Homo sapiens: one gene and its partners. The protein of the gene in region 1 interacts with the protein of each later gene in a biochemical or structural test. Each region holds a gene or a part of one and is shown on either strand. Other genes may lie near its edges. The genes, in order: PPP6C, TIPRL, MAP3K7 and ZNRF2.

The links.
Region 2: the proteins of PPP6C (region 1) and TIPRL form a complex in vitro, tested with the Homo sapiens proteins (one study listed by BioGRID).
Region 3: of the proteins of PPP6C (region 1) and MAP3K7, one has a biochemical effect on the other in vitro, tested with the Homo sapiens proteins (one study listed by IntAct).
Region 4: of the proteins of PPP6C (region 1) and ZNRF2, one has a biochemical effect on the other in vitro, tested with the Homo sapiens proteins (one study listed by BioGRID).

Annotation. Positions count from the first base shown.
Region 1 is NC_000009.12:125,151,799-125,158,826, reverse strand, and holds part of PPP6C (serine/threonine-protein phosphatase 6 catalytic subunit), read left to right. Parts: intron 1-444; coding exon 445-586; intron 587-4,841; coding exon 4,842-4,921; intron 4,922-5,084; coding exon 5,085-5,294; intron 5,295-7,028.
Region 2 is NC_000001.11:168,174,700-168,181,965, forward strand, and holds the start of TIPRL (TIP41-like protein), read left to right. Parts: upstream 1-4,262; 5' UTR 4,263-4,378; coding exon 4,379-4,482; intron 4,483-7,266. UniProt on the Homo sapiens protein: May be a allosteric regulator of serine/threonine-protein phosphatase 2A (PP2A). Isoform 1 inhibits catalytic activity of the PP2A(D) core complex in vitro. The PP2A(C):TIPRL complex does not show phosphatase activity.
Region 3 is NC_000006.12:90,514,056-90,521,083, reverse strand, and holds part of MAP3K7 (mitogen-activated protein kinase kinase kinase 7), read left to right. Parts: intron 1-1,764; coding exon 1,765-1,826; intron 1,827-2,521; coding exon 2,522-2,637; intron 2,638-4,402; coding exon 4,403-4,583; 3' UTR 4,584-7,028. UniProt on the Homo sapiens protein: Serine/threonine kinase which acts as an essential component of the MAP kinase signal transduction pathway. Plays an important role in the cascades of cellular responses evoked by changes in the environment.
Region 4 is NC_000007.14:30,322,578-30,329,605, reverse strand, and holds part of ZNRF2 (E3 ubiquitin-protein ligase ZNRF2), read right to left. Parts: intron 5,965-7,028; coding exon 5,869-5,964; intron 1-5,868. UniProt on the Homo sapiens protein: E3 ubiquitin-protein ligase that plays a role in the establishment and maintenance of neuronal transmission and plasticity. Ubiquitinates the Na(+)/K(+) ATPase alpha-1 subunit/ATP1A1 and thereby influences its endocytosis and/or degradation.

The DNA of each region.
Region 1 (7,028 bases):
CGGGTGTGGTGGCGGCTTGTACCTGTAATCCCAGCTACTCAGGAGTCTGAGGCAAGAGAATCGCTTGAACCCGGGAGGCGGAGGTTGCAGTGAACCGAGATTGTGCCACTGCACTCCAGCCTGGGTGACAGAGTGATACTGTCTCAAAAAAAGAAAAAAAAGAAAAAAAAATGGTGGTTTTTTTTTTCAGGGAAAGTTTTTGAGAGAATGGCACAGCAGATTCTTGTAGATTTCCCTGGAATCAAAAATCTTGTTTGTATAAACATTTAATAGAAAAAATTTGTTTACGTGTATTTTATTTTTTTGTTAAAATCAAATTTCCAAATAATTCAGTATGTAACTCTTTATTGTAGTTATAAACTATATGTTTGTACAGTTTGATATAATTTGAAAAGAATATTGTGGCTATTGTATTGTTTGTAACTGTAAACTTTTACTTCACAGGGTGATTTTGTAGACAGAGGTTACTATAGTTTGGAGACCTTCACTTACCTTCTTGCATTAAAGGCTAAATGGCCTGATCGTATTACACTTTTGCGAGGAAATCATGAGAGTAGACAGATAACACAGGTCTATGGATTTTATGGTAAGAATTCCTATTTCTCTGATTCTGAATATTATTTTACTTTCCTCTTTGGAAAACAAAGCTACACAAGTCATACACATGCTTTATGTATATTATTTTCCCCACATCCTCACTCCTTCACTCCTCCCAAACAATTGAAAATCTTATGCTCGAGAGAAGACCACTGTTAACTTTTTGGTGTGCATCTTTCTAGATCTGTGCCTCAAAGTGTAGCTGGAATCACCTGGGTTCTCATTAAAAATGTAGATTGCCGGCCGGGTGGGGTGGCTCACACCTGTAATCTCAGCACTTTGGGAGGCTGAGGCAGGCGGATCACAAGATCAGGAGATCGAGACCATCCTGACCAATATGGTGAAACCCCTTCTCTTCTAAAAATACAAAAATGAGCTGAGCGTGGTGGTGTGTGCATGTAATCCCAGTTACTCGGGAGGCTGAGGCAGGAGAATTGCTTGAACCAAGGAGTCAGAGTTTGTGGTGAGCCGAGATCATGCCACAGCACTCCAGCCTGGCGACATAGGGAGACTCCGTCTCAAAAAAAAAAAAACCAAAAAAAAAAGGAGAATGCTGGGCCTCACCACAGATTTATTAATCAAAATATTTTGGAGTGGGAATCTAGAATCTGCTGAAGGTGAATGTTCTGCACAAATTTGAGAGTCCATTCTCATCCATTTTGTATGTGTGTGTGTGTGTTTATGTGTGTTTATATATGTACAAACACGTGCACACTAAAATGGGGACATACCTGATTTTTTCACTTTATTAATGTTATTTTCATGGCTGCTTCATATACCATATGGATGTAGCATAATTGATGTATCAGTTTTTCCTCTATCGTTGGACTTTAGAGTTGTTTTTAAGCTGCTGTTATACATCCTTTTACATATATCTCTGTATGCTCACTCCAGAGAATGCTAGGACCTCAGGGATCAGAAGCAGAACTTAGTCATAAACAGCAAAATAGGCCAGGCGCAGTGGCTCACCCCTGTAATCCCAGCACTTTGGGAGGCCGAGGCGGGCGGATCACCTGAGGTCAGGAGTTCGAGACCAGCCTGGCCAACTAAACCCTGTCTCTACTAAAAATACAAAAATTAGCCGGGCACTGGTAGGGGGAGGGGGGAGGGATAGCGTTAGGAGACATACCTAATGTAAATGACGAGTTAATGGGTGCAGCACACCAACATGACACATGTATACATATGTAAAAGACCGACACGTTGTGCACATGTACCCTAGAACTTAAAGTTTAATAATAAAAAAAATTTAGCCGGGCATGGTGGTGGGGGCCTGTAATCCCAGCTACTCAGGAGACTGAGGCAGGGAGAATTGATTGAACCCAGGAGGTGGAGGTTGCAGTGAGCCAAGATCGCTCCATTCCACTCCAGCCTGGGCAACTGAGCCAGACTCTGTCTCAAGAAAGGAAAAAAAGCAAACTAGCTAATTCTTTAAAACTTTTATTTGGTTGAAAGAGAGAGAGAGAGAGAGAGAGAGAGAGAGAGCGAGCTTATTAGGAAGCCCCTTCAGGGAAATAGAACTGTCAAGATTATGAATTTGGATTTTCCTTGAGCACAATTAAGACAGATATTGAGAGATTTGGAAACATTAATTGCAGAACCCTTTAGATTTAAATTTTATATTTTGAATTATCTTCTTTCATTATAAAGATAGGCTGGGCCAGGTGTGGTGGCTCATGCCTGTAATCCCAGTACTTTGGGAGGCTGAGGCAGGCAGATCACAAGGTCAGGAGATCGAGACCATCTTGGCCAACATGGTGAAACCCCGTCTCTACTTAAAATACAAAAATTAGCTGGGCATGGTGGCACTTGCCTGTAGTCCCAGCTATTCGGGAGGCTGAGGCAGGAGAATCCCTTGAACCCGGGAGGTGGAGGTTGCAGTGAGCCGAGATTGCACCATTGCACTCCAGCCTGGATGACAGTGAGGCTGTCTCAAAACGAAACAAAGCAAAGATAATCTGAACTCTCTTACTCTTCAGTTTGTCTGCCATTATCAATTAGAGAAATTTTGAGAATTTATTGTTTTTATATAATTTTTTTAATACGTGTAAAGTTAGGTAATATTTATCTCCTTTCTACAGGTGACTTTTTATTTTCATTCACAAAATAAACACCAATTGAAATACAACTTTTGGATTCTTTTGCAAAATAATCAATATTTTGGATAACATACTATGATATTAGCTCAGTGAAAACAGTACTAAAACTAATGTTATAAAAACACACACACCTACTATATATATGTAACTAATGCTACATGTATAATATATAAAATACATATTGTTATATATGGCTAATATATGACTTTTTTTTTTTTTTTTTTTTGAGACGGAGTCTCGCTCTGTCACCCAGGCTGGAGTGCAGTGGTGCGATCTTCGCTCACTGCAAGCTCTGCCTACTGGGTTCACGCCATTCTCCTGCCTCCGCCTCCCAAGTAGCTGGGACTACAGGCGCCCGCCACCATGCCCGGCTAATTTTTTTGTATTTTTTAGTAGAGACAGGGTTTCACCGTGTTAGCCAGGATGGTCTCAATCTCCTGACCTTGTGATCCGCCCGCCTCGGCCTCCCAAAGTGCTGGGATTACAGGCATGAGGCACTGCGTCCAGCCATATGACATATGTTTTGAATAAGATAATTTTAGTTATTATAGGACTTATATTGATTTTCAAGGAATAAAATATCCCTATATGACTTTACACTGGGACTTCAGTTCACACTGATAAACACATACTGGGCAGTTACTATTGAGCCAAGTTCAAGATCCCTGCCTGCAACCTGAGCTCATTGTTAGGGCTCTCTTATGGCAAGTTTACATAACAATCTTGCTTCACGTAGATATATAATTGAGAAAATCTTGGGGATTGGTCATAACCTGCAGACTTCTTTCCTATATCATTTTCAGCTTCACTTAAGGCAATAGTGATATGTCAGGTTTTTTTTTTTCTAAAATTATGGAAGAAGCCAAAGTACAGAGCTTCCATGGTGTTAACAAAAGAAGTGTGTACCCTATTAACTATGTAGACAGTCAGGGTACAGTGGCTCACATCTGTATTCTCAGCACTGTGGGAGGCTGAGGTAGGAGGATTGCTTGAGCTCAGGAGTTCAAGACCAGCCTGGACAACATAGGGAGATCCCCATCTCTACCAGAAATAAAATTAGCCAGGTGTGGTGGCACTTGCCTGTAGTTCCAGCTGTTCAGAAGGCTGAGGTGGTGGGATCGCTTGAACCCAAGTGGTTGAGGTTGCAGTGAGCTGTGATCGCGCCACTGCTGATTGTGCCACTGTATTCCAACTTGGGCAATAGAGTGAGACCTTGTCTCAAAAACAAAAAACTACGTAGGCAGCAGAAAGAGTGTTCAACTGAGAATTTGTAAGAACCTGATTGGCAATCTGTCCTCAGTTTTGATCCACTGAAGCTCAAGTGTTTAGTCGCACGATTTGCAGAAAATCTCAGAAGAGACAACTTAGCCCTGAGAAGAGTTAGGAATTGCTCATGCTCCTATAACTAAGGATCCTCTAATTTGTTTGATCTGTTTATCCTGCTAGAATTGTCTCCTTAAATAAATTTATCTGCTTACCAGAATTGCCTAATATTAACATAACTGTTAAAACATTTGCTTCAGGTTGTGTGAAATTAGTATTTAACTCTTCTAATGATAGCATTTTGGCTAATAATTTCAGCTGCTTCTTAGGTCCATTCCAGGAATGAAGAGCAGTACTACATCCTTAGGAAATACAGTCATGTGCCACATAATGACATTTCAGTCGATGATGGACTGTATATATGACAGTGGTCCCATAGATAAAACGGAGCTGAAAAATTCCTATTGCACAAATACTTACCATTGTGTTACTATTTCCTTATGATATTTAGTACAGTTACATGCTGCACAAATTTATAGCCTATGAGCAATAGGCTATATCATATTGCCTAGGTGTGTAGTAGGCTAGACCATCTAGGTTTATGTAAGGACATCCGATGATGTTCACACAACGATGAAATCACCTAACAATGCATTTTTTAGAATGTATCCCCATGGTTAAGGGACATACAACTGTATGTAGTTAGTCACTAGCGTTCTTTTGGCTCTATGTGGAGGTCCTAGCAGGACTAAATATGTGTCATATCTTGCTATCCTAGTTTAAGCTGAATTTCTGTTGTACTGAAGGCTGCTCTAGTATTGGATATATTGTTTATTTTTATTAGCAGATTCATTAATTAAAACCCTTCTGTTTCTTTCACAGATGAGTGCCAAACCAAATATGGAAATGCTAATGCCTGGAGATACTGTACCAAAGTTTTTGACATGCTCACAGTAGCAGCTGTAAGTTTCTATTTTTAAAGTCTCATGTACGTTCCTGCCAATAACACATTGCATATTTTTATCTAGTTGTCATCTCAATTATATTGATATCTTTAGTATTCACTGATGAGTTTAGATATGCCTGAGGTTATATGTTCAACTCTTTGTTATCCTTTTTTGCTAGTTAATAGATGAGCAGATTTTGTGTGTCCATGGTGGTTTATCTCCTGATATCAAAACACTGGATCAAATTCGAACCATCGAACGGAATCAGGAAATTCCTCATAAAGGAGCATTTTGTGATCTGGTTTGGTCAGATCCTGAAGATGTGGATACCTGGGCTATCAGTCCCCGAGGAGCAGGTTGGCTTTTTGGAGCAAAGGTCACAAATGAGGTAAAGCCAACATTTTTGGAAATGTAATTTGTGGATTGCTAATGGGCTGCATAGAGAACTATGGTGGCCCTAGATAACAAACTTGTAGTCTAGCTTACTCAAAATATGGTGGCTGTGGATATTAAATTTCTAGTTTAGTTATTAACGTATGTCTTTCTTTAATGGTTAAATAAGATGACACAGTGAAAGCACCTACTCCAGCATCCATTTGGTAATAATGTATAAAGTAAATGTTCTTTCCTTTTTTTTTTGTTTTTGAGATGGAGTCTTGCTCTGTCGCCTAGGCTGGAGTGCAGTGGCGTGATCTTGGCTCACTGCAACAACCTCTGCCTCCCAGGTTCAAGCCATTCTCCTGCCTCAGCCTCCTGAGTAGCTGGGACCACAGGTGTGCGCCACCATGCCTGGCTAATTTTTGTATTCTTAGTAGAGATGGGATTTCACCGTGTTGGCTAGGCTGGTCTTGAACTCCTGACCTCAGGTGATCCACCCGCCTCAGCCTCCCAAAGTGCTGGGATTATAGGTGTGAGCCACCGCACCCGGCCAGCCCCTTTCCTTTCAAGTACTGTAGTTAAGTAACAAAATGGCAAGACCAAGATAGGCAATACTTTTTTTTTTTTTTCTCAAAGACCTCAAATCACACAGATACAGACACTTTATTAGTTTCCTCTACAAGAGACAATAACATGAATCTTTTTTTTTTTGAGACAAGAGTTTCGCTCATGTTGCCCAGGCTGGAGTACAATGGTGCAATCTCGGCTCACTGCAACCTCTGCCTCCTGGATTCAAGCGATTCTCCTGTCTCAGCCTCCCGAGTAGCTGGGATTACAGGTGTACACCACCACGCCTGGCTAATTTTGTATTTTTAGTAGAGACGGGGTTTCACCATGTTGGTGAGGCTGGTCTTGAACTCCTGACCTCAGGTCATCTGCCCACCTTGGTCTCCCAAGGTGCTGGGATTACAGGCGTGAGCCACCGCGCCCAGCCTACGTCAAATCTTTTTTTTCTTTTTAACAGAAATCTCTGTTCATTTGAAAAGCCAAATAGATCCAAAGAAAGAAGATGAAAATTAAATACTTAAATTAATCAAAAGGCACTATGATACCACCTAAAACCTACTGCCACAGTGGTAGTAGGCTAAGGAAGATCAAGCTACAGCAAATCATGTAATGTGAATGTTAGCGATTACATAGCAGGAAGCACATTTGCTTTCCAGAAGACTACGGTACAGTGTTCATTTGGGCCCAAGAGGATCTTTGGCCAGGAAAGGATCAAGATGGATGAAGGTAAAGCCAAATCAAAGGAGTAGGTACAAAAGAGAATCCAAGCTACATAGTCAAGCAGATGATGATGGATCAGGCTTCTTCCTCCCAAGAAACATTTGCTGCGCTGTGCTGCCTCCCCCCTCAACCACCCCCCACCCCCTACCCCATGGCTGCTCAAGCCCAACTGCCTACTCCTGCCTTACAGGGTGCTCAGCCACCGGGACTAGGTTTGGGGTTGCCCAGGGCTCTTGCCATAATTTAGCATAGACCTTGGGGAGAACTGCTCACACATGGGTTGGCTTTGCTGCTGGTTGTTCTCAACAAAGAAAACCCTGAAGCATTCACATGCAGAGTAGTCTGAGCTTCTCCAGTCACAGTCAAACACCCCCACACAACATCCTCAAAAGTCTGAAATCTTGTAACAGCTGAGCTATAGTTAAAGCTGCAAGGCTCACAGAATCATCAAGGAAGC
Region 2 (7,266 bases), on another chromosome or scaffold:
ACTATGGAGAACAGTATGGAGATTCCTTAAAAAACTAAAAATGGGCTGGGTGTGGTAAATCATGTCTGTAACCCCATCACTTTGGGAGGCTGAGGCAGGAGGATCACTGGAGCCCAGGAGTTCGAGACCAGCCTGGGCAACATAGCGAGATCTCATCTCTACAACAAATAATAATAATAATAAAATTAGCTGGGTACAGTGGTGCCTGTAGTCCCAGCTACTAGGGAAGCTGAAGTGGGAGGATTGCGGGAGCCAAGGGAGTCAAGGCTGCAGAGAGCTATGACCATGCCTCTGCACTTCAGCCTGGGCAATAGAGCTAGACCCTGTCTGTTAAAAAAAAAACAAAACAAAACCCAAAAAACCTAAAAATAGAAGTACCCTATGATCCAGCAGTCCTACTGCTAGGAATATACTCAAAAGAAAGGAAATCAGTATATTGAAGAGATACCTGCACTCCCGTGTTTGCTGCAGCACTATTCACAATAGCCAAGATTTGGAAGCAACTGGAGTGTACACTAACAGACGAATGGATAAAGAAAATGTAGTGCAGGCTGGGCGTGGTGGCTCACGCCTGTAATCCCAGTACTTTGGGAGGCCGAGGCAGGTGGATCACGAGGTCAGGAGCTTGAGACCAGCCTGGCCAAGATGGTGAAACCCCGTCTCTACTAAAAATACAAAAATTAGCTGGGCATGGTGGCATGAACCTGTAATCCCAGCTACTCGGGAGGCTGAGGCAGGAGAATCGCTTGAACCCAGGAGGCGGAGGTTGCAGTGAGCTGAGATTGCGCCACTGCACCACTCCAGCCTGGGCGACAGAGCTAGACTCTGTCTCAAAAAAAAAAAAAAAAAAGAAAGAAAATGTGGTACATACATGCAATGAAGGACTATTTGGCCACAAAAAAGAATGAGATCCTGTCATTTGCAACAACATGGATGGAACTGGAGGACACTATGTTAAGTGAAATAAGCCAGGCACAGAAAAACAAACTTTTCATGTTCTCTCTCATTTATGGGAGCTAAAAATTAAAACAATTGAACTCATGGAGATAGAGAGTAAAATGATGGTTACCAGAGGCTAGGAAGGGTAGTGGAGAGGGGCAGAAATGGTTAATGGGTACAAAAATATAGTTAGACAGAATGAATAAAATCTAGTATTTGATAGCACAATAGGGTGACTACAGGCAACAATAACTTATTGTACACATGTAATCCCAGCACTCTGGGAGGCCGAGGCGGGTGGATCACAAGGTCAGGAGTTCGATACCAGCCTGACCAACATGGTGAAACCCTGTCTCTACTAAAAATACAAAAGTTAGCCGGCCATGGTGGTGCGTGCCTGTAATCCCAGCTACTCAGGAGGCTGAGGCAGGAGAATCGCTTGAACCCAGGAGGCAGAGGTTGCAGTGAGCTGAGATCGCACCATTGCACTCCAGCCTGGGTAACAGAGCGAGACTCCATCTCAAAAAAAAAAAATTACTAAAAGATTATAACTGGAATGTTTGCAACACAAAAATATAATAAATGTCTAAGGTGATGGATATCCCATTTGCCCTGATGTGATTGTTACACATTGCATGCCTCTATCAAAATATCTCATATACCCCATAAATATGTCTATTATGTACCATAAAAATTAAAAATAAAAAAATTTTTAAATAAAAAGAAATTTTAGATAGAAAACAAAACCTAATCTTGGCCAAAGGAACCTCAGAAAAACCTTAAAAACTGAATTCCAGGCCAAGATGGGAAGAGAGGTTAGACACACCTCTATACCTTCTCCCTTTTAAAGTTTAGGCACAACTGACCAACATTAAGGTTAAACTAGAGATCATAAGACTGACAAAACACTCTGTGGCAATAAGATACCATATTATAAACAAGACCTAGGCTGGGCGCAGTGGCTCACGCCTGTAATCCCAGCACTTTGGGAGGCTGAGGCAGGCGGATCACGAGGTCAGGAGCTCGAGACCAGCTTGGCCAATATGGTGAAACCCCATCTCTACTAAAAATACAAAAATTAGCTGGCCGAGATGGCGCGTGCCTGTAGTCCCAGCTACTTGGGAGGCTGAGGCAGAAGAATCGCTTGAACTGGGGAGGTGGAGGTTGCAGTGAGCTGAGATCACGTCACTACACTCCAGCCTGGGTGACAGAGCGAGACTCCGTCTCAAAAAAAAAAATAAATACAAATAAACAAGACCTGCGAGCCAGGCGCGGTGGCTCACGCCTGTAATCCCAGCACTTTGGGAGGCCGAGGCAGGTGGATCATGAGGTCAGGAGTTCAAGACCAGCCTGACCAACATGATGAAACCCCGTCTCTACTAAAAATACAAACATTAGCCGGGCATGGTGTTGCATGCCTGAAATCCCAGCTACTTGGGAGGCTGAGGCAGGAGAATCGCTTGAACCTAGGAGGTGGAAGTTGCAGTGAACCGAGATGGGGCCTCTGCACTCCAGCCTGGGCGACAGAGCAAGACTCTGTCTCAAAACAAAACAAAACAAAACAAAACAAAAAAACTATGGCCATGCAAGGCAAGGATTAAGTCATGCCCTACAAACCATAAAATGTCGTTAAATGGTTTTTTATGTGCAATGGTATAATGTGCCTTACTTTCCAACCTGACTGGTGTAGAATCACATGACAGATAGCAGACTCCCTTTTCTTAAGCATTCCTTTCTACTGACTTCAAGTCTTTAGACAAAGCTTAACACTGTTTTTTGTTTGTTTGTTTGTTTGTTTTTGAGACAAGGTCTTACTCTGTCACCCAGGCTGGAGTGCAGTGGCACGATCTCGGCTCACTGCAACCTCTGCCTCTCAGGTTCAAGTGATTCTCCCACCTCAGCCTCCCTAGTAGCTGGGGTTACAGGCATCCACCACCGTGCTTGGCTAAGTTTTGTATTTTTAGTAGACACAGGTTTTCACAATATTGGCCAGGCTGGTCTTGAACTCCCGACCTCAGGTGGTCCACCCACCTTGGCCTCCCAAAGTGCTGGGATTACAGTCTTGAGCCACTGCACCTGGCCTGTGTTTTTATTTGTTTTTGAGACAGGGTCTCGCTCACCCAGGCATGAGTGCTGTGGCATGATCATGGCTCAATGCAGCCTCTGAGGCTCAAGAGATCCTCCCACCACAGCCTCTCAAGTGGCCTGGGACTACAGGCAGATACCATCATACACAGCTAATTAACACGGTTTGTAGAGATGAGGGCTTACTCTGGTGCCCACGCTGGTCTCAAATTCCTGGACTCAAGCAATCCTCTCACCTAGGCCTCCCAAGATGCTGGGATTATAGGCAGGAGCCACCTCGCCTGACTAAAGCTTAAATCTTTCAACAGATTGCCGATCAGAAAATCTTTGAATCCACCTATGATCTGTAAGCCTCTCCTTCAAGACATCCCACTTCCTTAGCCTGAACCAATGTATATCTTCCATATATTGACTTATTTTACCTGCAATTCCCAACTCCCTAAAATGTATAAAACAAAGAGTAATGCCACCGCTTCAGATGCTCTTTGTTAGGACCTCTTGGGACTATTCCCTGGGCCATGGTCACTCATATTGGTTCAGAATAAATCTCTTTAAAACCTTTTACAGAATTTGTTTTTTTTCCATTAACAAAATCATCTCATTTTGAGGCAACTGAAGCCTAAAATCGTTAGAGAAGCGCTTTGCCCAAGGATTCACACAATAGTGTTGCAAATGGAGATTTAGCACTAAGTCAGCTGTGTTGTTTTCACTATACTGGGTGCCTACATAGCAACTAGACCATGGAAAGTCTTCGCATATCTACGAGGATGCAATTTTTGATAGGAGTTGGTCATAGTCAAGAGTGGCTAGATGGCCACTTCTAAATCTTGTTGGTGCTGGATTTCCTAAACTCTGTGGGATTACTTCTTTTTTTGACCTCAAAACAGAAAAATTTCCTCTGTAACACGATTCACTAACACATGAGGTAATCACACTGCTTTGAGGTCTGTAAGGATCAAGTTGGAACCGTCATCCCCTTCCCTGGCAGTCCCTAAAATCCTTCGAGATGACGTCACCCAACGAGTTCAAGAGGGCGGTGCGTTCCTAACCACACCTTCTGCAACCCAAGTGCCGCCCCTCTGACTTTCTCCTTTTTCCTTTTTTCCGGAACGCCGGAACGTAAGACGTGGGTCACGCAACAAGAGCAACTAGTCCCGGAAGCAAAAAGCAAAGAGGCGGAGAAGAAGACGGGAAGCAGAGCCCGCGTCCGGGTCGGCCGGCAGGGGGCGGGGCCGGGCATGGTAACGGCTCGGAAGCCTAGGAGGCTGGGCCGGAGGGAGGCGGAGGAACCGGTGTTCGCCGCCGCCGCTGCTTCAGCTTATTCCTTGTGGCCTCTGCGGGTCCTGCCTCAGCCATGATGATCCACGGCTTCCAGAGCAGCCACCGGGATTTCTGCTTCGGGCCCTGGAAGCTGACGGCGTCCAAGACCCACATCATGAAGTCGGCGGATGTGGAGAAGTGAGGCTTCGGGGCACGGGGTCTGGGCGCTGGCCGGTTGCTGGCCCAGGGCGGGAGGCAGGGCGAACTCTGTGCAGCCCCTCCCCTTTTCCCTGAGGCGGAGGTTCGGTCCCTCCGGACCGGACCTTTGATTGACAACTTCGATAAATAATCCAGTCACACTTCCGGGCCCTTTGGTTGGGGATCGCCAGGCGCTGCTTTCGTCAACTGTCAATCCGCCTGGGTTTGAGTAGAGTGTGACTGTTCTGGTGGACTTTCCCCTCACCAAACGTCTCCTCCTGCCTCAGCCTGCACCACCTTTCTTTCTGGGTGGCTGTTGCCTGTTTTCTTAGGGGTTAATGACGGGGATGATTTATAAGTTTGGTTTCTGTCACGTCAGGTGCTGTGCCCGGCGCTTGAGATAGGAAATGTAAAAGACAACGTGCGCCTCAATTCACAGTCTCGTGAGAGAGACAGACAATTATATTACAGCGTGAATAAATGTAATGAAGATGTATACACGGAGTGATGTGAGGTCTTTTAGGGGCTCGAACCATCTGGGAAATTGGGATGCCTGAACTGAATCTTTATAAAACCGTTGCGGGGGGCGGTGGATAGGTACATGCCATCAGGTCAGGCAGAGTGAGTTGTGATGCGTTTTTGATGCCTGGGCTGAATCTTGACAAAATTTAGGGGAATCAGGGGACGCATGTAAAGCTGGGGGCTCAGGGAGAGTGAAAGCTGTGATGTGTTTAAAGAGCTGTGTCCGTGTGATTGGAGCGTGAGGTACCATAGGGGGTGTTGTGAGAGATGAGAGGTAGGCCCCAGGGGAATCAAGATACTGAGGGAATTTTTATGCCTGGCTAAGGAGTTTTCAATTTTATCTGACAACCACTGGGTGTAATTTTATCCAAAGGAGCTGCATTATCAGATGTACGCTCTGAAAGATTTCTCTGGAGGCCATGTTGAGGCTGGATTGCAGGTCCGCAGGGATGGGAAGGAGACCAGTTAGTAAGAGAAAAGATAGGTTTTAGAAGATTAAGTCCCTGGGATGGCCAGCTGATGGGAGGAGAAATAAAAAAGGAAGAGTCTATGCTGATGACAAGATCTCTGGCTTGGATTTTTGCATGTATCGTATGCCTTTGAACAAGATGAGAAGCACAGGAGGAGGAGAAGCAGATGGGGGCAGGGTGTTGGTTAGAGGATGAGTTTAGTTTATTGAAATGTGAGGTGGGTATAGGTCATAAAGTGAAGATGTGTAGTAGGCATTTAGATATATTTATCTTGGAGCTCAAAAAAGATAACGTCTGTGGGTTTAAGTTTGGGAATTATCTGCTTATATTTGGTACCTGGAGCTTTGGGAATGAATTAAGGTATCTAGAAGTCATCCAGAGGAAAAGGTCATAAAATAGAACCCTAAGTGAGTACTTGCATTTTAAGATTTGAGCAGAGGGAGTGACCAGGGAAGAGAGGAAAGTAATGAAACGATGTTTGCTTCCTAATTCAAGAAAATAAGTGGTAATATTCTAGTAGACTCACTGAAAAAAATTAGGAAAATACAGAAAAGAAAGGAAAAAAATTTCCCTTCATCCCACCAGAAATTGAATTACTTTTTTGAGTTTTTCCTCTCTATATCTTTCTTTTCTTTTTTTTTTATAACTTTTTTTTTTTTTTTGTATTTTTAGTAGAGACGGAGTTTCTGCATTTTGCTCAGGCTGGTCTCGAACTCCTGACCTCAGGTGATCTGTCCGCCTTGGCCCCCCAAAGTGCCGGGATTACAGGCATGAGCCACTGCGCCCAGCCTTGTATAACTTTTATTTATTTTTTATTTTGTTTTTTTGAGACAGAGACTCACTCTGTCGCCCAGGCTGGAGTGCAGTGGCACAGTCTCAGCTCACTGCAGCCTCCGCCTTCCAGGTTCAAGTGATTCTCCTGCCTTAGACTCCCTGGTAGCTGAGACTACAGGCGCGTGCCACCACGCCTGGCTAATTTTTGTATTTTTATTTATTTATTTATTTTTAATTTTCTTTTCTTTTCTTTTTTTCTTATTCTTTCTTTCTATTTTTATTTTGAGATGGAGTTTCACTTGTTGCCCAGGCTGGAGTGCAATGGCGCCATCTCGGCTCACTGTAACCTCCACCTCCTGGGTTCAAGCGATTCTCCTGCCCAGCCTCCCAAGTAGCTGGGATTACAGGCATGCATCACCACGCCCAGCTAATTTTGTATTTTTAGTAGAGATGGGGTTTCACCATGTTGGTCAGGCTGGTCTTGAGCTCCTGACCTCAGATGATCCACCTGCCCTCGGCCTCCCAAAGTGCTGGGATTACAGGCATAAGCCACCGCACCCGGCCTCCTCTCCATATAACTTTCTGTGACAAATTGCCGATTGGTGCAAAAGTAATTGCGGTTTTTAATTGCAAAACCGCAATTACTTTTGCACCAACATAATACAATATATAATTATATTATATATAAAGCAGTCAGCTTCAAACTGGGGCCCCCATGTAATTTACTTACAGATTCTCTAAGCGATGGCTGTATACATGGAGAGTTTTAAGGGAATAAAATTCCATATCTACGATCTCCTTATGTATTATTTTAAAAACAAATTTGCCTGAGGCCGGGTGCGGTGACTCACTCCTGTAATCCCAGCACTTTGGGAGGCTGAGGCAGGCGGATCACCTGAGGTCAGGAGTTCAAGACCTGCCTGGACAACATGGTGTAACCCCGCCTCTACTAGAAATACAAAAAAAATTATCTGGGGGTGGTGGTGCAGGCCTGTAATCCCAGCTACTCTGAAGGCTG
Region 3 (7,028 bases), on another chromosome or scaffold:
TTATTTGAATAACACAATCCTTGGACTTTTTTTCTGCTCCCAGAATACCACGCAACACTGATGTATTAAGCTTAATTCTAAAATACATATCAGATACAGGGTGCTGATATAATGAGATATATAATGTATCAGTGATTTAAGAAAGAATAATAGGAATGGAAATCTTAAATTGAAACTTTTTCAAGACACTTAAATTTTTCTAGTAAATCAGGAGGAAATCAGTCATTTTTAATCAGTTTTAGTTTTGTGGAAAGCAGTGTTTATGTGGGAGCGTAGTTTGAAACCACTGTTGGGGTGGGAGAAGAGTTGGTCAGAGAAATAACAAATTAAGTATATTTCTTGTTTAGCCACTTCAGAAAAACACACATTTATGTTAGTACTGTATATGAGCCTTAAGGGTAAGGGTAAGTGCCTTAAGTCTCTACTGTTTTTCTGTATTGCCCTGCAATATTTAATAAACATTACTTTTTCAATATGGAATTCATACTATACTATTTTAAATTGTTCTTTCTAATTCTCCATTTAGTATGAATAATAATGATAACTACCGTCATGTATTGAGTGCTTAATATACGCCAGGATTTGCATGGTGTTCCTCACATGCACTGGCTCATTTGGTCTGATTTCGCTAATTAGCTTTTGGAGTTTCTTGAGAGCACGTTCTCAGTGGCTTTAAAAAAACAAAAACAAAAGCAAAAAGAAAAAAAAACACCTGGATTATCAGTTGACAATAAATTAGAAGATTACTGAGCCAGCAACCCTTCTTGAGTTTTTTTGGATTGCATACAGTGCGTCTGCTGTCTTCCTGACTTGCCTTTATCCACACCACTCCTTCAAGGAGTTATTCGTCAGAAAAAGGCTGAAGAGCTCACTCATTTAGCTCTTTTTTTGTCTACTAACAGTGGGAAAGCAACTACTTCTGAAGTAGAAAAGTCTGTATTGCTTCAGAGTTACTCTGTTTACTTCTGGAACTGTTCTACATAACCATAAATGTTGAGAAGAGACTGTCCCACGCATCTCAGTCAAGTTGTATGGCAGTTTTACCTCTTTTGAAATATAAACAAAAGCATTCTATTCAAATAATTTTATAAAATTGACTGATTGTTTGAATTAATCAACTTAACTGTTTTCGGCATGACATTGAGCCACAGGTTTCAACCTCATTTTGGTTCCTTACTGTTCGTATTTGTAATATACTCTCATCACCAACATCTCGTTTTCTGCAGTGATTCTTACTGGGAAGGGCAGGATGAGTGGTGGAGGTCACATTATAATCTATATAAATTGAAAATGATCCACTGGAAGAGAATGTGTCTCTGCTTTCTCCCTTTCCCTGTTAAGGAACATTGATATTAGCGGAGTTGATATAGCCTTCTATAAAATAAACTTAGCATGATAAAGAAAAGAGATGGGGAGTTTGATTAGATAGGGTCAATTAAGACTGAATTTAAAATATAAAGGTCTCATCACTGTTTTTGTTTTTAATTAAGAGCTTAGAAGCTCTAATATATTGTGTTCTATTCAGTTTATAGCCAACTTAAATTATAGGTATGAGAATATAATTGCATTCTAATATCTGATAATTGAATATCCTTTTTTTAACCTTTAGAATTCAGAAATAGACTCTTCAATTACCAATAGCTGTAACTTTTAATTTACATATTATTTACTTTAGGGAAAAAAAGCATTTCATTCATGCTTTCTTGCTGTTCGTTTATAATTATTTGTGACAGAAAATCAATAAAATACATGCTTGAATTCCAGATACCAATGGATCAGATAACTCCATCCCAATGGCTTATCTTACACTGGATCACCAACTACAGGTAAAGGAGTACTTTCTTATTGAAAGTTGACTTTTTTCTTCTTAGAGAGTTTAAGTTGACAATTGTGTTGCTACCTGTCATTGTATAGTCACTCCTTAATTTATCCTTTTAGTTGGCCTCCTTAAACTTTTTAGAATCAAATCAAAATAATTCTTTTGGTTAAGTTAATCAAACTTTAAATTGGCAGAATCATATTCTTATCTTTTCAGTCATCTTAAAATCCTCCAGTATCTTTCTTTAGTACTGCTAAGCATTACATTTTCACTCTTTAATTTTAGTGCATTAAAACAAAACTCATAAGCTTATTTCTATTTAATACATTTGTGATACATTCTCATGTTCATAGTGACTGAAAATGTAAATAATATACTTCAGTGCCCCCTCATGAGTATGAGGGCTATAAACATCATTTAGTTTGAGCCTGTTTGCAGCCTGAAATGTCATACCAGAGACTACAACTCCAACAATCATGATTCTCTGTAACAGACTGTTAAAACAGCAAGAATAGATTTAAATGCTGAGTTAATTCTGACAAAAGGACACTGAGATTTTCTAGGGCATGGTTTAACACTTATTTTTAAAAGATCATTGCTTTAGTGCTATAAAAATATATCACAGTCTCTGTCTTGACTCTCATCTTAGCTAGATATTGAAATTTGATTTAATTATGTTTTAACATTCCTGATTATTTTCAGCCTCTAGCACCGTGCCCAAACTCCAAAGAATCTATGGCAGTGTTTGAACAGCATTGTAAAATGGCACAAGAATATATGAAAGTTCAAACAGAAATTGCATTGTTATTACAGAGAAAGTAAGTTATTTTTTATGAATAAAAATAAAAATACATTAGTATTTTGAGTTTAAAATATGATAAGGTGCAATGAAAACGTAGTTTTTAGAATTAGTCATTAAGTATACTTTCAACTTGTTTAAGCTTTAAGCACCCTTTTACTAAAAATTTTTTATGCAAAACTCAATCCTTTTGACTATCATATTAGTGCTATGGAAAATAAACTGGTGCTTTATACTTGTTGTTTTATGTTCTCAGAGCTGTTTAGACTTATTATTATAAAGATTTATTGTTTTCTTGTAAATAGATAAAATAATTTGATTTATTAACATTCAGTTGTGCCTTATCTTAGAAACATTTTTGTAGATACATTTTTTCCAGGTGTATGTTTAGAATTGGATTACTTATTAAAAGACTGTATTTCATAACTGAGTGTTTTTCTGAGGAGTTATAGAAACTGCCTTCCTCCCTTTTTAAAGAAACACAGCCTAATTTCCTTACTACTGCATTCACAGTTCTTAAATATGTATGTATCTTCAGTTTTCTTAAGCATGACCTCCATGAAATTTTATACTTAGGTAACTGAATTGTTGGTGGTAACTAAAATGAAGTGATAAGGAAAAAATTTTGGCAACTTTATATATGTATGATAATAGGATTCCCTTCATTAATTTTAATCTAAATAAATGAAAGTTGTTTTTTTCTGAATTTGCGAAAAGCTTTCTGTATGTACTTCAAAAAAAAGAGAGAAAAAATTGTTTTATCATAATTTATTGATACAGTGATTTAAATGGAACCAACCTGGTATTTGAAAGGTAAGCCTAAATAGGAAATTAAATACTACAGTTTGGAAATCGTAGAAGTAATTATCAAACTGCTGGCACTTTTATGTTGAAAAAGCTTGATTTCTTATTTCACTTATTTAACCTATACTTTTGCCATACTTTAATCATTTGAAAGAAGTATTCTATGCTGGAAAAAACAAATGGTGGATTAGGGTGTTGGCTGTGAAAACTATGACAGTTTTAATCAATTTTAAATACTTTCAGAAGTAGTATTAGTTAGTTATTTTGCTTGAGGACTTTTTATTAATTATTCATTTATATCCAGTAACCTCACTTTAGGAAATGCCTAAAGATGCATCTTTTTCGGGAATACTTAATAGTTCCCAAATAAGAGGGACTTAAATAAGTTTATCAGACTATAAAAGAATGAGGGTCTTTCCTGAAAGTGCTTGCAAATGTAAGTGTTTTAAAAGAAGTGGTACTTTGTCATTTTTCTCACTGCTTTAAAATGGGAAAAAGCTTTAAATTGGATAGCATTTATTTTAATTAGATTGCAAATTTGCTATTAGCTTACCACTCTCTGCTATAGTTAAGTAGGATTGTGACTTCAGAATGTGAATCAGTATAAAAGTAGAATGTGAAGGATAAAAACTTCATGATATTTTCCCATAGCCACATAGAACCCTTCCCAGCCTTTTTTCATCCTTCCTACACAAAAAGAGGATAGAAAATGAAATTTTCTGAAACTTTTATTTTACCATTTTATCTGCTTCGCTAATTATCCAAGTACAGTTACTTAATAAAAGGATTATGTTATTTGTATGATTACACTAGAAGTAGATGAGAGTTCCATCCCAGCCCATAATTATATTTGATTAGTGTACCTAAGATGCAAAATGATAAACCAAGAATAAAAATTCTCATTAATTGAGCTTCCATCATCAGCTACTAAGGTATGAATTTTTCCATCATGTGTAATATTATGTGGTATTTGTTTGTAGGCAAGAACTAGTTGCAGAACTGGACCAGGATGAAAAGGACCAGCAAAATACATCTCGCCTGGTACAGGAACATAAAAAGCTTTTAGATGAAAACAAAAGCCTTTCTACTTACTACCAGCAATGCAAAAAACAACTAGAGGTCATCAGAAGTCAGCAGCAGAAACGACAAGGCACTTCATGATTCTCTGGGACCGTTACATTTTGAAATATGCAAAGAAAGACTTTTTTTTTAAGGAAAGGAAAACCTTATAATGACGATTCATGAGTGTTAGCTTTTTGGCGTGTTCTGAATGCCAACTGCCTATATTTGCTGCATTTTTTTCATTGTTTATTTTCCTTTTCTCATGGTGGACATACAATTTTACTGTTTCATTGCATAACATGGTAGCATCTGTGACTTGAATGAGCAGCACTTTGCAACTTCAAAACAGATGCAGTGAACTGTGGCTGTATATGCATGCTCATTGTGTGAAGGCTAGCCTAACAGAACAGGAGGTATCAAACTAGCTGCTATGTGCAAACAGCGTCCATTTTTTCATATTAGAGGTGGAACCTCAAGAATGACTTTATTCTTGTATCTCATCTCAAAATATTAATAATTTTTTTCCCAAAAGATGGTATATACCAAGTTAAAGACAGGGTATTATAAATTTAGAGTGATTGGTGGTATATTACGGAAATACGGAACCTTTAGGGATAGTTCCGTGTAAGGGCTTTGATGCCAGCATCCTTGGATCAGTACTGAACTCAGTTCCATCCGTAAAATATGTAAAGGTAAGTGGCAGCTGCTCTATTTAATGAAAGCAGTTTTACCGGATTTTGTTAGACTAAAATTTGATTGTGATACATTGAACAAAATGGAACTCATTTTTTTTTAAGGAGTAAAGATTTTTAATTCTGTGATTGTGTGTATGTGTGTTGAAACTGTAAAGCTTTTATGACTCTAATATTAATCTCTTAAATGAAATTAAAAGGCAAAAGAACATGATTGAGCTTAAATGATCATTTCTTCCTGCAGTGATTCTTGGATTGTTTTCTCATGTATTTGAAAAAAAAAAAATGAAGAAAAATAATGGAAAATGGAAGTAATTACTCCAGCTAAAAAAAGCTTGGACTTAGATTTCTTTTTATGATACCAAATGAGAAATAAACCAGGCAAATCAGAAGGAAGTTAAAGAAGCAAATATAAATTCAACAAGTGTCCTAATTATCCTGGATATTGGAATATTTGATTTTCCTTACAATCCCGTTCTAGAATGCCTGCCGCCTTTCAACACTTTCAAGAGAATTTCAACACTTACAGAGTATTTATATTGTTAACAGTAATTTTGCTACCAAAACCTTCAGAATAACTTTAATAATAAAATGACACTGAAATAATAGACTATACAAACTCTATATTTTTTCAGTTGGTGTTAAAATAAGTCACATTTTGATACCAGTACAAGATGTCTTTTAAATAAGGATGTCATCAGTCTGATTTTTATAGCATTAATGTTTTATGAAGAAAAAGTTCAAAATGAAAGCATTAATTGCTGTGATTATTAGAATTCTATCATGACTGTATTGTAGTTTTTGCTCTATTTCAGATAAGCAAGATCTAAGAAGTTATCAAAACTATTCTTTAAAATGCTAAAGCAGGTAACTTTTTCTTCCATTATTTTTTCCTCCTACCACTGAGTTTTGTAATGAATTCCTTGTGTATACAAGCAATACAGGTGAATACTAAACTGTTATTTTTAGCTTCTTCAAAAGCTATTTTAGAAAGCTTCCTGGAAATAAATGTCTTCTGTCATTTAATTTAAATAAAAGGAGTGTTAATTGTTCCCAAATTTGATTACCTAGCTGAAACAGATATTGGATTCAGCATAGTAATAGTAAAATAAAATTGGCAGAGAAAATAACTGTAGACTAGGATAAAGCATGACTCCTCCATAGCATTGTTGCTTGTATGTACATCTGTCACTCCACTGAAAGGGACCTAGTCACTTTAAAGAGGCCTTTTATCTCAGCACGAGATATCCAAGCGTGAATGCTAAGGCTTGATGTTTCCATTAGGATTTAGCATTCGAGATTTCAGATTTTATTTATAGTCATTGATGTGTTTTGCTGTATTATAACACATTTAAGGGAAATTTTATTATGGTTTTTACATGTAGTCATTTCATAAAAATATCCAGATAGGTAAATGGAAGAAAATAGTAGATTTTAGTCATGGTACCAAATGCAAGAGGCTGTTGAACAGTTGCTTGTTTGTTTACAGTAAGTTCCTTGAGATTTTCAGTACTGTAGTTGCCCTGGACATTGAGTACAGTTCAGCCTTACTCTGTTTTTAAGTAGTTGTGTTGTCAATTTCATGCTTTTAAGTCCTGATGATCCTTGGAGATGGGAGAAAAAGATACCAGGGATAATTAAAATCCACAGCCAGTTTCATCAGTTTCCTCATCCATCCTGCAAATAAAAATGTTAACAAGGAGCCAAACTTATTCGTTCTGGTTTTACAATTTATTTTGACCGTTTTTTGGGTGAAAATTGCAAACAGCCAAGCAAGTGGCTGGAATGCCCCAGTCTAAGAAATTCAAAAACAATCACTGAGTAAGCCCTAATTACATTAATTACATTTTAC
Region 4 (7,028 bases), on another chromosome or scaffold:
CTGGAGGACATTATGTTAAGTGAAATAAGCCAGGCACAGAAAGACAACTATAGCATATTTTCACTCATTATGTGGGAGCTTAAAAAACAAAACAAAACAAAACTGATCTCATGGAGACAGAGAGAAGAATGATGGTTACCAGAGGCTGGGAAGGGTACTGGGGAAGGGGGATATAAAGAGGGTTTGATTAATGGGTACAAAAATACCTTCAGATAAAAGGAATAAGACCTAGTGCTTGGAAGCACAACAGGACAACTATAGTTAACAATAATTTATTGTGTATTTCAAAATAACTAGAAAAGCAGAACTGGTATGTACCTAATACAAAGAAATTATAAATGCTTGAAGTGATGGATGTCCCAATTATCCTGATTTGATCATTACACATTGTACATTTGTATCTGAATATCACATGGACCCCTATAAATGTACTATTATGTACACATAATAAAATTTTTTAAAAAAACTAAGAATTTGCTAATAATATTTAATTTGTTGGCTTGTCTGAAATATCCTAGAAGGAGCAAGGAAATGAAGAGAGCCTCTATACTCATAAAATTTGTATTAGATTCATAGACTATACAAGGAATTATTAGGTCCATAAACTCAACAATGAAGCACATGAAAGAGGGAAAAGTATATGAAACAGGCAGTCCTTCACATGAAGGTAATCTATGTTGTTGAATACTCACTGTGGCATTCTTAATTTTTTCAAGCTGCCAAAATACCATCTGCAATAGATAATACCACCCACATCATTCAAAATCCTTCCCTGCCCTGACAGCCTTGGGCGTCCCATTGGGATCTCTGCCGAGCCAGCTGCCCAATCCCTGAGAGTTTCTACCTAGTCAGCCAATTTCTTCTTCAGGTACCAGGATGTGGGTGTTCAGATATATTGTGCATTTAAAAAAATAAGAAGGTTTTGGTGAGCTAGTCTGAAAAACCAATATTTCAAATATCATCTCTGTGACAAAGAGTCTGAAACTCTAAATCATCAACTTATATTTGAATTTCTGGAACTCATCCAATTCAGGAGCTTATCTATATAAATATATCCAGTCTGAAGAAAACAAGCCCCACTATTCTTGTGTTATAACTATGAATGTTTATAGACAGTTAACATTCACTTAACAAATAAATTTCAAAATTTCAGATCTAGCTACTTTGGAAAAGGCTGCAAAAGTGTAAGTTAAATGAACAGTATGCTGAAAAAAATGTTCTTGTTTGAGCACTAACACAATTCAGAGGCCCAATGTATCTGATGTATCTCTCTATGGAATCAACATGTAGGAATTCAAATATAAAATTGTGAGGAATCCAGTTGACTAAAAAGATTCAGTTTTAGAGATTCTCTGGCTTTACCTTGTTCTACTTTATAATAATCCTAGATGGTTTGCTTATGAGGTATTAAAGGAGCCAATTTCCATTTGGACTCATCACCTGTGACAGACATTTTGGGGGGGGTCTGACTTTAAAACCAGGTGGCATTAGAATTCCCCTTGCCTATGATAGGAAAGTACATTATTAACCTGCCACCTCTCTGTAACCCTCCAAATCAGTCCAGGCAAAGCTCCTTTCTCCTTCACTTACTCATAACTGGCCACTGTCCAAGAGCTAGTTTTAAAACCTCAAAAACTATACACGGTTTTTATTAAGAAGCTGTATTTGCTTCTTGCTGTGAATGTTTATACAATTAATACATACTTTGAATTTTTTATCTCTACAAAATAAAAAATAAAAGCCAGGCATGGTGGCATGCACCTGTAGTCCTAGCTACTTAGGAGGCTGAGGTAGGAGGATCACTTGTGCCCAGGAGTTTGAGGCTGTCGTGTGCCATGACTGTGCCTATAGATAGCCACTGAGCTCCAGCCCGGGCAACACAGCAAGATCCTGACTCTAAAAACAAAAATATATATATTTTTATTTTTTAAAGCTTTCAGTCAGCAACTTTAAGAATGCCTACAAGTTTATTTACTTATTGCATGAAATTTATTAATTTCTAGATTGAAATACTGTTAAATATTTAAAATTCGAAATATTTGGTTGTTATAGTATCCCCAAGCAGAAGGTTATATATTAGTTCTTAAGACACCAAACAAGTGATCTAGCAGAACAGTTTAATGACTTAGGCATAGTTAAATCAGGAAATTAAGAACTGTCAAATATCCAAACCTGACCAAAAACAAGCAATGGGGAAAGGATTCCCTATTCAATAAATGGTGCTGGGATAACTAGCTAGCCATATGCAGAAGATTGAAACTGGACCCCTACCCCACGCCAACCTCCTTAAACCACATACAAAAATTAAGTCCAGATGAATTAAAGACTTAAATGTAAAATCCAAAACTATAAAAACCCTGGAAGACAACTTATGCAATACCATTATAGACATAAGAACAGGCAAAGATTTCATGACAAAGGCACCAAAAGCAATTGCAACAAAACCAAAAATTGACAAATGGGATCTAATTAAACTAAAGAGCTTCTGCACAGCAAAGGAAACTATCAACAAAGTGAACAGACAACCTACAGAATGGGAGAAAATTTTTGCAAACGAAGCATCTGACAAAGGTTTAATATCCAGCATATATAAGGAACTTAAACAAATTTACAAGAAAAAAGCAAACAACCCCATGAAAAAATGTGCAAAGGAGATGAACACTTTTCAAAAGAAGACATAAATGTGGCCAAGAATCATATGAAAAAAAGCTCAACATCACTGATCATTAGAGAAATGCAAATCAAAACCACAAGGAGATACCATTTCAAGCGTCAGAATGCGTATTATTAAAAAGTCAAAAAAAAATACATGTTGGAGAGGCTGCAGAGAAAAAGGAACACTTAACACACTGTTGGTGGGAGTGTAAATTAGTTCAACCATTGTGGAAGACAGTATGGCAATTCCTCAAAGACCTAAAAACAGAAATACCATTTGACCCATCAATCCCACTACTGGGTATACACCTAAAGGAATATAAATCCTTGTGTTATAAGACACATGCATGCATATGTTCACTGCAGCACTGTTCACAAGAGCAAAGACATGGAATCAACCTAAATGCCCATCAAATGATAGACTGGATAAAGAAAATGTGGGTCCATATATACCGTGTGAATACTACACAGCCATAAAAAAGAAGATCATGTCCTCTGTGGAAACATGGATGGAGCTGGAGGCCATTATCCTCAGCAAACTCACACAGGAACAGAAAAGCAAATTCCGCACGTTCTCACTTGTAAGTGGGAGCTAAATGATGAGAGCACATGGACACAAAGAGGGGAACAATACACATTGGAGCCTACCAGAGGGTGGAGAGTAGGAGGAAGGAGAGGATCAGAAAAAATAACTAATGAGTACTAGGCTTAATACCTGAGTAACAAAATATCTGTAGAACAAACCCCCATGACACAAGTTTACCTATATAACAAACCTGCACATGTACCCCTCAACTTAAAAGTTAAAAAAATTGTTAAATATCACAATACACAAGAAGACTGTATTCTAGATATATTACACAAAAAGTAAACATACAGAATACTAAGACTGTGTGTAAATATATTATTATATGGTCAAATATATTTGTGATTTTCAAATTGAAAGCCAGAAGCTTTAAGATTTATGGATATTTAAAGGCACTCATATTAAACATAAACAATTATAGAATATAAGATAGTGGAGCAGGTATGAAAAACAAACCCATATACTTTTAGTCACAAATTTTGAATGAGAACACTTTCTATTTCTTAAATAACTAAACTTGAAGTAGATAATGCAAAGTAGCCAATTCAATTTCATAATGCAAAAAGGTTAGGATATAATCAACAAATACATTTATTATGCCAAGTAACTGCTTAAAACCACTTTCACATTTCATCAGCAAATGAATGGCAAAAAGTGCTCTATTGTCAACCCTGTAATAGGGTGGCTGAAGCACCACCATACTAGAAAAAGTGAAGGAAAGGGAAGAATTGAGAGACTGATTCTTAGATCAACTTGCAAAACACTACCAAAAGTAATATGCTCATTTCAATGTTAAATTCTACCCCTCCCAACATTTTTGTTACCTGAGGAGAAAGCTCAGATAAGTGCTGCTATATCTACTAAGTTTTTCATAGAACCTTTTTATTTAACCAATAATTCTTAGCTCAAAGAAATCAGTGACTATTACTATTAGTAGGCTGTAAGCTCCATTTCTGTTCATTCACTGCTATATCTCTAATTCCTAACACAGTACCTCGCACATAATTGATGCTCAAAATATATGTTGAATTTAGCCAATCTTTCAATTGGCTATAGTGTTTACTGGTACCCTTTCTACACATTTTATTTCAGGCCAAAATTTATATTTAAAAAAAATGAAATTTCTCTTAAGCTTTTGAAGTCTGTTTCTTTATAAAATTTTGAAAACAACTTTCATTTTTCCTTCATTTTATTCTATTCATTGGTTAGGACAGAACTACTTGATTTTTCCCCCCCAAGTCTATTCCAAAGTATGCCAAGGCTACATTTAAAATCTTTCCTAGGTTTTGGAATATCTAGAGATTTTGGTCAGGAAAGAATGGTACAGTCTAAAACACCAGACCTAAAAAAATACCAGTTCGCTCCAGAGCTCACAGACTAAATTTGTATATGGGAGGAAAGACAGAGACACATATGCACTGCATAGGTAGAGTTTTGGGTTTCTCTTAATGACTTTTTTCTCCCATTAGGCATCTATTTACTATTGAATAAACTTTTATTCTCCCTACTCCTCATATATGTTCCCTTCATTTACTCTATACTCTTAAACAAAAAGAAAAAAGTTGCAATTTCAACCATGCTTACTTACTTTTGAAAATGGCCATTATGAACATTACATTTTACTTAGGCTTAACCCAAAAGATTTTATTTCAATGCAGCAGTTCTCAAACTGTGGTCCAAAGAATCTTGTACAGTAGGAGAAGTGGAAGAGCCTTTGAAATCCTTTTAGATTAACAAAGTAAAAACTATTTTCATGGTAACACTAAGTATCTGTTTTTTTGTTTGTTTGTTTTTGTTTTTTTTTCTTTTTTTTTTTGAGACAGAGTCTCACTCTGTCTCCAAGGCTGGAGTGCAGTGGCACAATCTCGGCTCACTACAACTTTCGCCTCCTGGGTTCAAGCGATTCTCCTGCCTCAGCCTCCCGAGTAGCTAGGATTTCAGGTGTGCACCACCACACCCAGCTAATTTTTTTTTTTCTTTTTTTTTTTCTTTTAGTAGAGATGGGGTTTCACCATGTTGGCCAGGCTGGTCTCAAACTTGGGATCTCAGGTGATCTGCCTACCTCGGCCTCCCAAAGTGCTGGGATTACAGGTGTGAGCCACTGTGCCTGGCCATATCTGCCTTTTTCATTCCCATTCTCTCCAGTATAGCAGCAGAGTTTTCCAGAGGACACAAGACGTGCCATATCACAATAAACTGAATGAAGAAGCAGATGTGAGAATTCCTTGTCATGAAGCCTGATATTAAAGAGTTTGTAAAAATCCTGAAAATGCCACTCTTGTCACTAAATATTTTGTCTTAGAAAATTTACTTTTCATTTAAAAGTTGTCAACATAATTATATTTATGTTTAACAAAATAAATTAAAAATTATAAATTCTGTTTTAATTTATGACAAATATGGATAGATATAACCCAAGTAAAGAAAAACTCTTTGAAGTCCTCAGTAATTTTTTGAAGTGTAAAGAAGTCTTGAGATCACAGAATTTGAGAACCACTGCATTAATGCACTAGTAAAAATAGAGAAAACAATGTCCTTCCCTCCTTTTAAATTATACTTGAAACATGAAATTCATAAAATGTAAGTTAATTCTAACTTAAAATATTATTTTAAACCATTGGACTTACCATTATAGGTTATTCGTGGCTTTGTTAAACACATTACAAGATGCAAATCCATTTCATCTGAGGATACAAATTTTGAGCATACAGGGCACTTAAATCCTAAAAAACAAAAGAAACTCAAGTTACTTAACTATTCTGAATATCCAGCTATGGCTTTTAAAAAGCATGGAAAATCAAAAAGCGTTTGAAACTTCAATATTACACTTACTGCATTACACTGTTTATGTGCAACTCAAGTCAGGAAAATTTTGTGATTATAATATCTGACTTTTGTATCAGTTTATGAAGATGATCTCCTCATCAAACAAAACAAGTTAAAATGAGAGGGATGCAGTCCACTACAAACTCCTGTATCTCTCTCTGATGTACTGGTCCAGGTATTCTCGTTTTTAATTTTTTACATTAACCTGTACTCATGATTTCATGTTATTACAAGCTTTGTAATCTGACTACTCTTGTGGAAATTACCTTTACCAACTTGGTATAGTACACTGTGAGTCACAAGTTTTATAGCTAAACAGCACCTTAGACACTATTCTACCTCAATAACCTTAAAATTTTATCTGATGCAGAACGTGAAGCCTTTCAGAACAGCAAAAACAGGTCTAGAATCTAAGACTCCTGACTTCTACTTTAATGGTCTTTCTGCCACACCATGGCACTGAAGTCATAATGAAAACAGAAACTAGCATCAGATCGGGGTACAGGTTTTTGCAGTCAATTTTTGACACTTAAAAATTAGCTAGTTTCCTACATTATTCAATCTGCACTACTAAGTATTTGCCTGAAGTACTCCATTAAAAATAAACTAGCATAATAAAATAGGGACTATTTGATGTATTCAGCTCTGTTCTGCCCCCTCACTTACCAAGGTGAAGTGTCCCATCCCTGCCTTCTTGCTGCTAAGACAGTCCTCAGATATACCATGTTCCCCTGCTGTCCTACTGCTCCCTCCCCTGACACCACTAAGCTGTTTGGAAACCTGAACCCAGATAGCCAACTTATAGTTTGGCTAGGCACAAATCAGAAGTGGAACAAAAAGATGGCATAGGCCAATCAATTTTTTTTTTTTTTGGAAATATGATTAAGAAACAGTGAGAGACTATATTGGCCAGCAGTAAAGAGCTTAAGCAGAAAGGTCAAAAGTAAGTAAAAGAGAGACA